Linked DNA regions of Homo sapiens. The protein of the gene in region 1 purifies or fractionates together with the protein of each later gene. This does not show direct contact. Each region holds a gene or a part of one and is shown on either strand. Other genes may lie near its edges.

Region 1 (3,756 bases):
TATTTTTGGAGAAACCCCCTGGGCTAAAATAATTCACCCACAAAGCCAGATGTAGCTTGAGGGGTAATAAACATGCTATGGCCTAGAGCAGGAAAAGGGAAAAAAGAATGAAGCAGTACATTTTCTTAATGAGGCTTTTTCAAACCACCATTTCATGTTGTAGCCAAAACAGATAAAATCACCAAAGGAACTTAGGATCTTGAAGAATATTCAGAGACTGTAGAAAGTGGTTTAAATAATAGATATTTAAGAAAAGATTCTAAAAAATATTTATTATGTTTATAAAATGGAAATTTCATGTTTATACTAAAAAAAGATTTACTATTACACATAAGTATTACACGAAGATGTATATAAACACATTGCATATGCAAAATGTATACACATAGACCACATGGCCAAATATGTGATATTATAAGGATAAGTTGATCTCACAGCAACATTTTGATGTGGAAAATTACCTCCACTCCAGAAATTATAAGTAAGGAAGATATACCCTGGCATTGCAAATAATAGCATAGGGATATGTCATTACACAACCTTGGATGAGATAACATATCAACCCGACATAAATACAGGCAACATCTATTCCTGAAAGGAATAAAAAAATGCTTACGAAGATACAGCAATGAGATACTGGGCTAATCGAATGACAAAAAAAATGTGATGTGTTCTTACATTGCTTACCCTAATTTTTAAAAAAGATTTGGAAAAAACAGAATAAAGATGACACTATCTGAAATAGTTGGTGTGCTTGAAATCCAGTTTTTAAAATTTGAAGGTAGGAATACTTCAACAAGATCATAAGCTTATACAACAGATCATAAGCTTATTTTTCTGTTTCAGATGCTTATCAAACTAGAAGTGAACATTTTGAACAGGTTTGTTTTCTAGGTGAAATCCTCTTTCCACATCCTACATAGCAAATACTCATGCACACCCACGCACATGAACACACACACACACACACACACACTTCTCTTTCTCTCCTTACAACTGTAAATCCATACCATGAGACTAAGGATGCTAACAACCAAAGAATGTGTTAAAGCAGCATTTTACCTCTTTGCTGATCAAACACAGAAGGGGTGCTGAAATCCATGGTAGCCTGTCTCATCATTTACCATCAGAATGGCAAAAAGCATCCAGGTCTCTAGAGAGGAGAAAACACCATCTCAAACCTTACTGTCAACATGACAGTCAGAGGCAGCATCGTTTGCCAAGACCTCTGTTTCAGGATTAAATGTGCATCAGAGCTGCAGGTTGTTGTCAAGGCAAGGTGATGAAAATAGGTAAATGCTATTCCTGTAAATACCTGCTAGGAAAAGAGTTACTCTATGGCCTCATTCATCAGCTGTACATGGGCATAATACACCCTCCACCCCCAAATCAATAAACACAATTACTCAAACTCCAAAAAGATAGTAAAATTGTATGGGCCACCTGCCTTGGATCTGGGCTGGAAAAACACAGCAGATCACGGAGCTTCAGCAGCTGGAATGTCGCTTTACACCAACAGAAATCTGAATGGGTGAGTGAGGATTCACAGGGCCAGACAGAGCATGTGCAAAGCTGCCAATGCAGTTCGCATTCGGCTGTGCTTTTGGCGGAGTGAGAACTGCATTTGGGTCATGTGAGCAGAGAGTGCCATCTCAATGGAATAGGATGTAAATATTGTAGCAGGAGGCTGCTGGCCATGTGCTGTGTGGAGTAATTATCCATGTTGGCAGTCTTCTTCACTCCCCTTTCAGCTCCGTTCTCCAATTGACAGGGAGGATGGGGAAAGGCGTCATTTGAAAGGTGACATTTCAAGGCTCGAGTGTCTGTGGTGATAAAATTAAAACAGTCTGCTGTCACAAGGGTGTTTATTGTAGCATTACATGTAGTAAAACCTGAAAAATCACCCGAATGTACCTCATTCAGGGAGCAGCTAAGTAAATGGTAGTAAATTCGTACTCTAGATTTAAAAATCTGACATAAATAAATCTGTGTATTTATCTGGTGACATGTCACTAATCTATTGTTAAATGAAATAAACAAGTTATATATTTCATTTGTTCGTGTTTTAATAAAACCGGAAACCACTCACTGTATACATTATTTTTATATATTCAGACGAACACTGAAAAAGATGTAGAAAGATACGTACTAAACTGCTAATATTGGTTCCCTCAGGCCACTGTGATTAGAGTAGGAGATTTCTAACTTGTTCTGTATCAATCTCTGTATTTTTGGCTTGTTAATAACCAGTATCTATTATCTTGTATTTGTAATAAAAATATGATATACTAAATTCAAACAAAGTTCTATATTCTAGGCACAACCAGATTTTTGGATAAGTCAAATAGCCATATAGTAGATGCTTGTTGAATCTAATAATAAACACCAGCTTCCTTTGCCCTTGGATAGGATGATTCTGAGGCATGGTGTTTTACTCCGTTTGCCATTTCCCTTTCAGGATTAAACTCCTTCAGGGTTAAACTCCACTGCCACCTGTGAGAATAGGTCTAATAACGTTCTTTTTATGGGCTGCTGTTCCCTCCCTGTATTACTTTCCCACGTTCCTACTGATATTTCCTGCACTTCTCAATAAGTTACTTGCATTGGAATCATTGTCTCAGGGTCTGCTTTTACGGAAACCCAAATTAAAATATTTCTCCACAAGAGGGTACATTTCATAAGGGCAGGGTCTTTGTCTACTCTTTCTTTGTCTGCTTTGTCCACTCCATGTCCTTACAGCCTAGCACAGAGAGGGGCACAAAGGAGGTGCTCAGTACATTTCAGTGCATGAGTGAAACTTCACTGAAGAACTTTCCTTGCTCAAGCTGACAACCTGCTCACTGACATTGTAACATTGGAACCCAATTAACCATCCTTCATGGGGTAAGAACTTTCTGACAAGAACTTCTGTAGTCCTTGAAATTTTCTAGTCTAAACAAGAAACCATGTACTTGAGGATTGGTTCTAGGGTTTCTGGAATTGGCTCTCAAATCTGATTAAATTTAAGGATTCTAATAGCTTTATTTCTAGGAGTAAAGAGAGCATTGATAGTCCATGGTGTGAAGTGGTAATAGAGATATGCAAAAAGCTGCACTGAATATTCCTAATTAATCACTGGACACAACAGGCAAGGAGTTGGGTGACTGTGTAGATGATACCCTCAAACATTTTTGGAAACTTAATGAATATGGCTGGTTGCTCCTAATGTCACTGGACAAAGTGATGAAAGAAAAGGATTAGCTCACGGATTCTAATTCCCAGCTCAGGTGCCATATAGATGACCTGGAGGTGTGTATGTGTACCCTGAAGGAGAGTCTTACCTCCTGTAGCCATGAGGCTGAGGATGCTGCAATCAAATGCAGGCTCTCATGCTGCAGCTGCCTGAATTACAATGCAAATTGAACTCCTGAATTACAGCGCAAGTCAAACTCCCAGCTTCACAGGATGTCTGCTGTTAAAGTGAGGACATTGATTGGGAAAGTAGAGGATACTGTAAATTGGATAGAGACATGTGAGAAGACCCTGATGAAGCTGGGGGACACTGAGCATCTAAACTCTGAGGAGTCTTCTTTGCCAGTGGAAGTGGACTCCCAATCCCTAGTAGAAGCAGCCTCCCCATCTCCAGTGGTAGCAGCCTTTTCACCTCAGTCTGAGAAGATTGACTCTGAATTGCCTGAGGAAACTGTATTGGCCTTCCTTGAGGCAGCTGCCGTGCACAACAATGCTGATTCTCTTCAGGAGCCACCACCATTGTTC
Region 2 (3,756 bases), on another chromosome or scaffold:
GAATCCCAAACTTACTGAACCAGAATCTGCATTTTAAAAGGTCCCCAGGTGATCTGTGTGCTTTAAGTTTGAGAAGTACTGACACAGGGGTCTACTAGTTGATTTCTTGAAGTCCTCAGCTCAACCAAGCTGCAATCTACAGGGACTATTAAGAACTAGATAGACTTTCATAATTTACAACATTGTTTTAGTGGAGGAAATAAAATAAGAAAGACATTTTACAGAAGCCTTTAAAATAGGTAGGATCTATGAGGAAATAAAGTTTTCCTTGCAGATGTCATTAATAAAAAACATTTTGTGATATTTCATCCTTTCCAGGTGTGGCATCCTGCTCCCCAAACATTGTTCCCTCAAATCCTGTTTTTTCCTACGGCTTTGTGTCCTGACAAATACCCCTTTCTACTGTGGTTCTAGAAACAGATCAGAATAGGGGACTCTATTCTGATAAAGAAAAGCTGAGGATTATTAATTCATTTCATTTTTTTAATCCAGGGTCAGCCCTTTTAAACCTTCAACTGAATACAAAACATCTGAGAAGTTTTTCCACGTATGACTGGAGAGGCATTCTTTGCTAGCGGTCAAAGACAAGGACAAAGAACTACCCCCAAAACAGTTTGAATGAACTATGACCAGAAGCTGGTTTTGAATAAAGCTGATTTTCTATACCTCTAACTCTGTATTATCGACACGAAGAATGACAGAACCTTAACAGGAAATCTACATTCATTTTCTCCATTATCTCTGGTAACAATACAACACTGTAGTCAAGTGAACACAAAGCAAGCATAAATAAAAACACATTTTTCTCCAACTCCTATAAAATCAGTGCCTAGATGATAAAAAGTCAACTATACCTACTTGACTACAGACTTTACAAAATTAGTCCAAACTAATTAAATAACATCCCATATAGTCCCAAAATCTTCTTGCTCACTACAAATGAGCCAAATGAATCTCGAAACAAGACAGACGTTATATCACTCAAACAGATACTAAATGCTCCTCTCTGCAAAGTTTAACTATCCTAGACCATAAATTCAAACATATCATGTGTGTCCTGAAAGAAAAAATAAAGCTGATATGCCAAAATATTAGAGACCCGCATACAACTCCCAGACAAAATCTTCAAAATGTAGTGAGAAAAATCGTATCAGAAAGATTCACAATGATCCAACCACTCCAGAATCCTTAACTCCCAGAAAAGTTGCAAGGAATCTTATGCTGAAGGTTACCCATTTCTTAATTCCCAATCATACTGCAATAAATTTTCTATTCATATAATATAGGTGGAACTAGGGAACAAATGATGAATAATCAAAGGCAACCTCAGTTCTCCCTCTGATAAATATAAGGCTTTTTTTTAAATTAAGTACAAAAATATGACACACACAAAAATATAGAAAGGGCTGGGTGTGGTGGCTCACACTTGTAATCCCAGCACTTTGGGAGGCTGAGGCTATGGATCACTTGAGGTCAGGTGTTCGAGACCAGCCTGGCCAACATGGTGAAACCCCGTCTCTACCAAAAATACAAAAGTTAGTCAGGTGTGGTGGTGCATGCCTGTAATTCCAGCTACTCAGGAGGATGAGACAGGAGAATTGCTTGAACCTGGGGGACGGAGGTTGCAGTGAGCCGAGGTCACACCACTGCATTCCAGCCTGGACCACAGAGGGAGACTGTCTCAAAAAAAATAAAATTTTGTGTGTGTGTGTGTGTGTGTGTGTGTGTGTGTGTTTAACACCTATGCACTCACCATGGGGTAGGTTTAATCACAGAACATTACCAAAATACTTAAATGCCCCTGGTGTACTTCCACCAATCGTGCTCTCCACTCCCTTCACCATAAGGATGTCCCACTCTCTTAAATTTAGTGTTTATCTTACCTTTACGTGGCATACTTTTACCACGCATGTACATATCCCTAAACCAATGAGTCTCAATTGGGAGCAATTTTGCCCCCACTAGGGGACATCTGGCAATGTCTGGAGATATTGTGGGTTGCCACAAGGAGGTGGGGTGCTACTGCTGCTAATGGGTAGAGGCCAGGGATGCCTGCCTACAATGCACAGGACATTCCTATAACAAAAAATTATCCTATCCAATTCAAAATGTCAATAGTGCCAAGGCTGCAAAACCCTACCCTAAAATAGTTTTGTTCCGCACTTTAACAGACCGTAGGTTTTCTTTTGCAACTTACTTTATTTGCTTAACATTCTCTTCTATACAGTACTGCACTATACAAATTCATACAACTTATCCAGTCTCCTGCTAAGGTACATTTAAGTTTTTTCCAATTTTCTGTTTTTACATGCAACACTGCTGTGAACATTCTTTTTTAAATTTTATTTATCTCAAAACCATAGTAACTGCTGTGAACATTCTTATACAAGCTTCTATGTGCTCAAATAGAGATTCTCTCCAGGGCAGTGACTTTTAAAGTGTTATTCTTCAACCTCTAGGGAAATCCTCAAGACCCTTTGAGGGACTTCATGAAGTCAAAAGTATTTTCACAATAATATGTAAGATACAAGTTATCTTTTTCATACTGGCATCACATTGCTGGTACAAAAGCAACAGTTGGTAAAATTCCTGGTGACCTAGCCGAGTTAACGCTATAATTAATGAGACATACGAACACCATGTACCTCCTGGTACGATGCACTAACAAGGGCAAAACATCATTTCTATGATATTCTTGCCGAAAATACATAATCTGAATTTAATCATGAAAAAGCAGCAGAAACACCCAATTTGAGAGATAACAAGATTGTTTTTCATTACTTTGACACTGACTAAAGACTGAGGAACTCACCCAGATTGGAAGAGACCACTAAATGCAACGTGTGATCTTGGATGAGAAAAAGAATACTAGTAGGACACTAATAATAACCACTGCATATAATTTGAATAAATAAAATTTGAATAAGGTGTATAGATTAGTTAATACAGTATTACCGTATTAGTGTTAATTTTCTGGTTTTGATCATTGTACTTGCTAAGATATTAACAGCTGAAGAAGGTGGGTAAAGGGCAAAAGGCAACTCTTACTAGTTTTGTAATTTTTCTGGAAGACTACAATTGTTTCAAAAACAAAAGTTAATTTTTAAAATGTTAATATTATGCAAATAAATATCAAGTACTTAATAAATATTGAGTAATCTTATAGAATGTAATAAAATGTCAGTGAACACTGATTATTAAATATTTTGAAGAAAAAGGAAAACACTGAAAGTAGTATTATAGTCCTGGGGCAAAACAAGAGCCAGGAGCTTACAATTTTGCTCAGTTCTAAAAAAAAAAAAAAAAAAAAAACCCTGAAGAATTTAAAAGGTTGAAATTAAAATATATTTCAACAAGTATTTCATATGAAGGTTGGCTATCCTGCTCTTAAAATGTTTGTTAAAAGACCAAATGAACAAGATAAACCACTACATATAACAAATTAATGTATAAAATTATCTTATTAAACTAAGATTCTAAAACAGTTACTTCTGAAAAACATCTACGTTTATATTAAGATAATAAAACTATTAATATGATAGATACACCCCATACTACAAACATATAGATAACATTAATGTCCCTTCAAAAATCACCGTAGTAAAGAATCTGTTACACTTTACCCTAGATACTTAAATTTCCTCATAAAGCTACAATTACTGATACCAAGAATTCCTCCAAATAAGGGTTGTGGTCAGACTTTAGCTTGAGCTAGCACGACAACAAAACTTCAAGGCTGCAGGTAACAAAACAAAA

What was found.
Region 2: the proteins of ANKRD55 (region 1) and MIB1 purify together in Homo sapiens (affinity purification with mass spectrometry; 3 studies listed by BioGRID and IntAct, with this or other methods). This does not show direct contact.

What each region holds. Positions count from the first base shown.
Region 1 is NC_000005.10:56,231,794-56,235,549, forward strand, and holds the start of ANKRD55 (ankyrin repeat domain-containing protein 55), read right to left. Parts: upstream 1,538-3,756; 5' UTR 1,448-1,537; intron 1,154-1,447; 5' UTR 1,121-1,153; coding exon 1,063-1,120; intron 1-1,062.
Region 2 is NC_000018.10:21,743,654-21,747,409, reverse strand, and holds part of MIB1 (E3 ubiquitin-protein ligase MIB1), read right to left. Parts: intron 1-3,756. UniProt on the Homo sapiens protein: E3 ubiquitin-protein ligase that mediates ubiquitination of Delta receptors, which act as ligands of Notch proteins.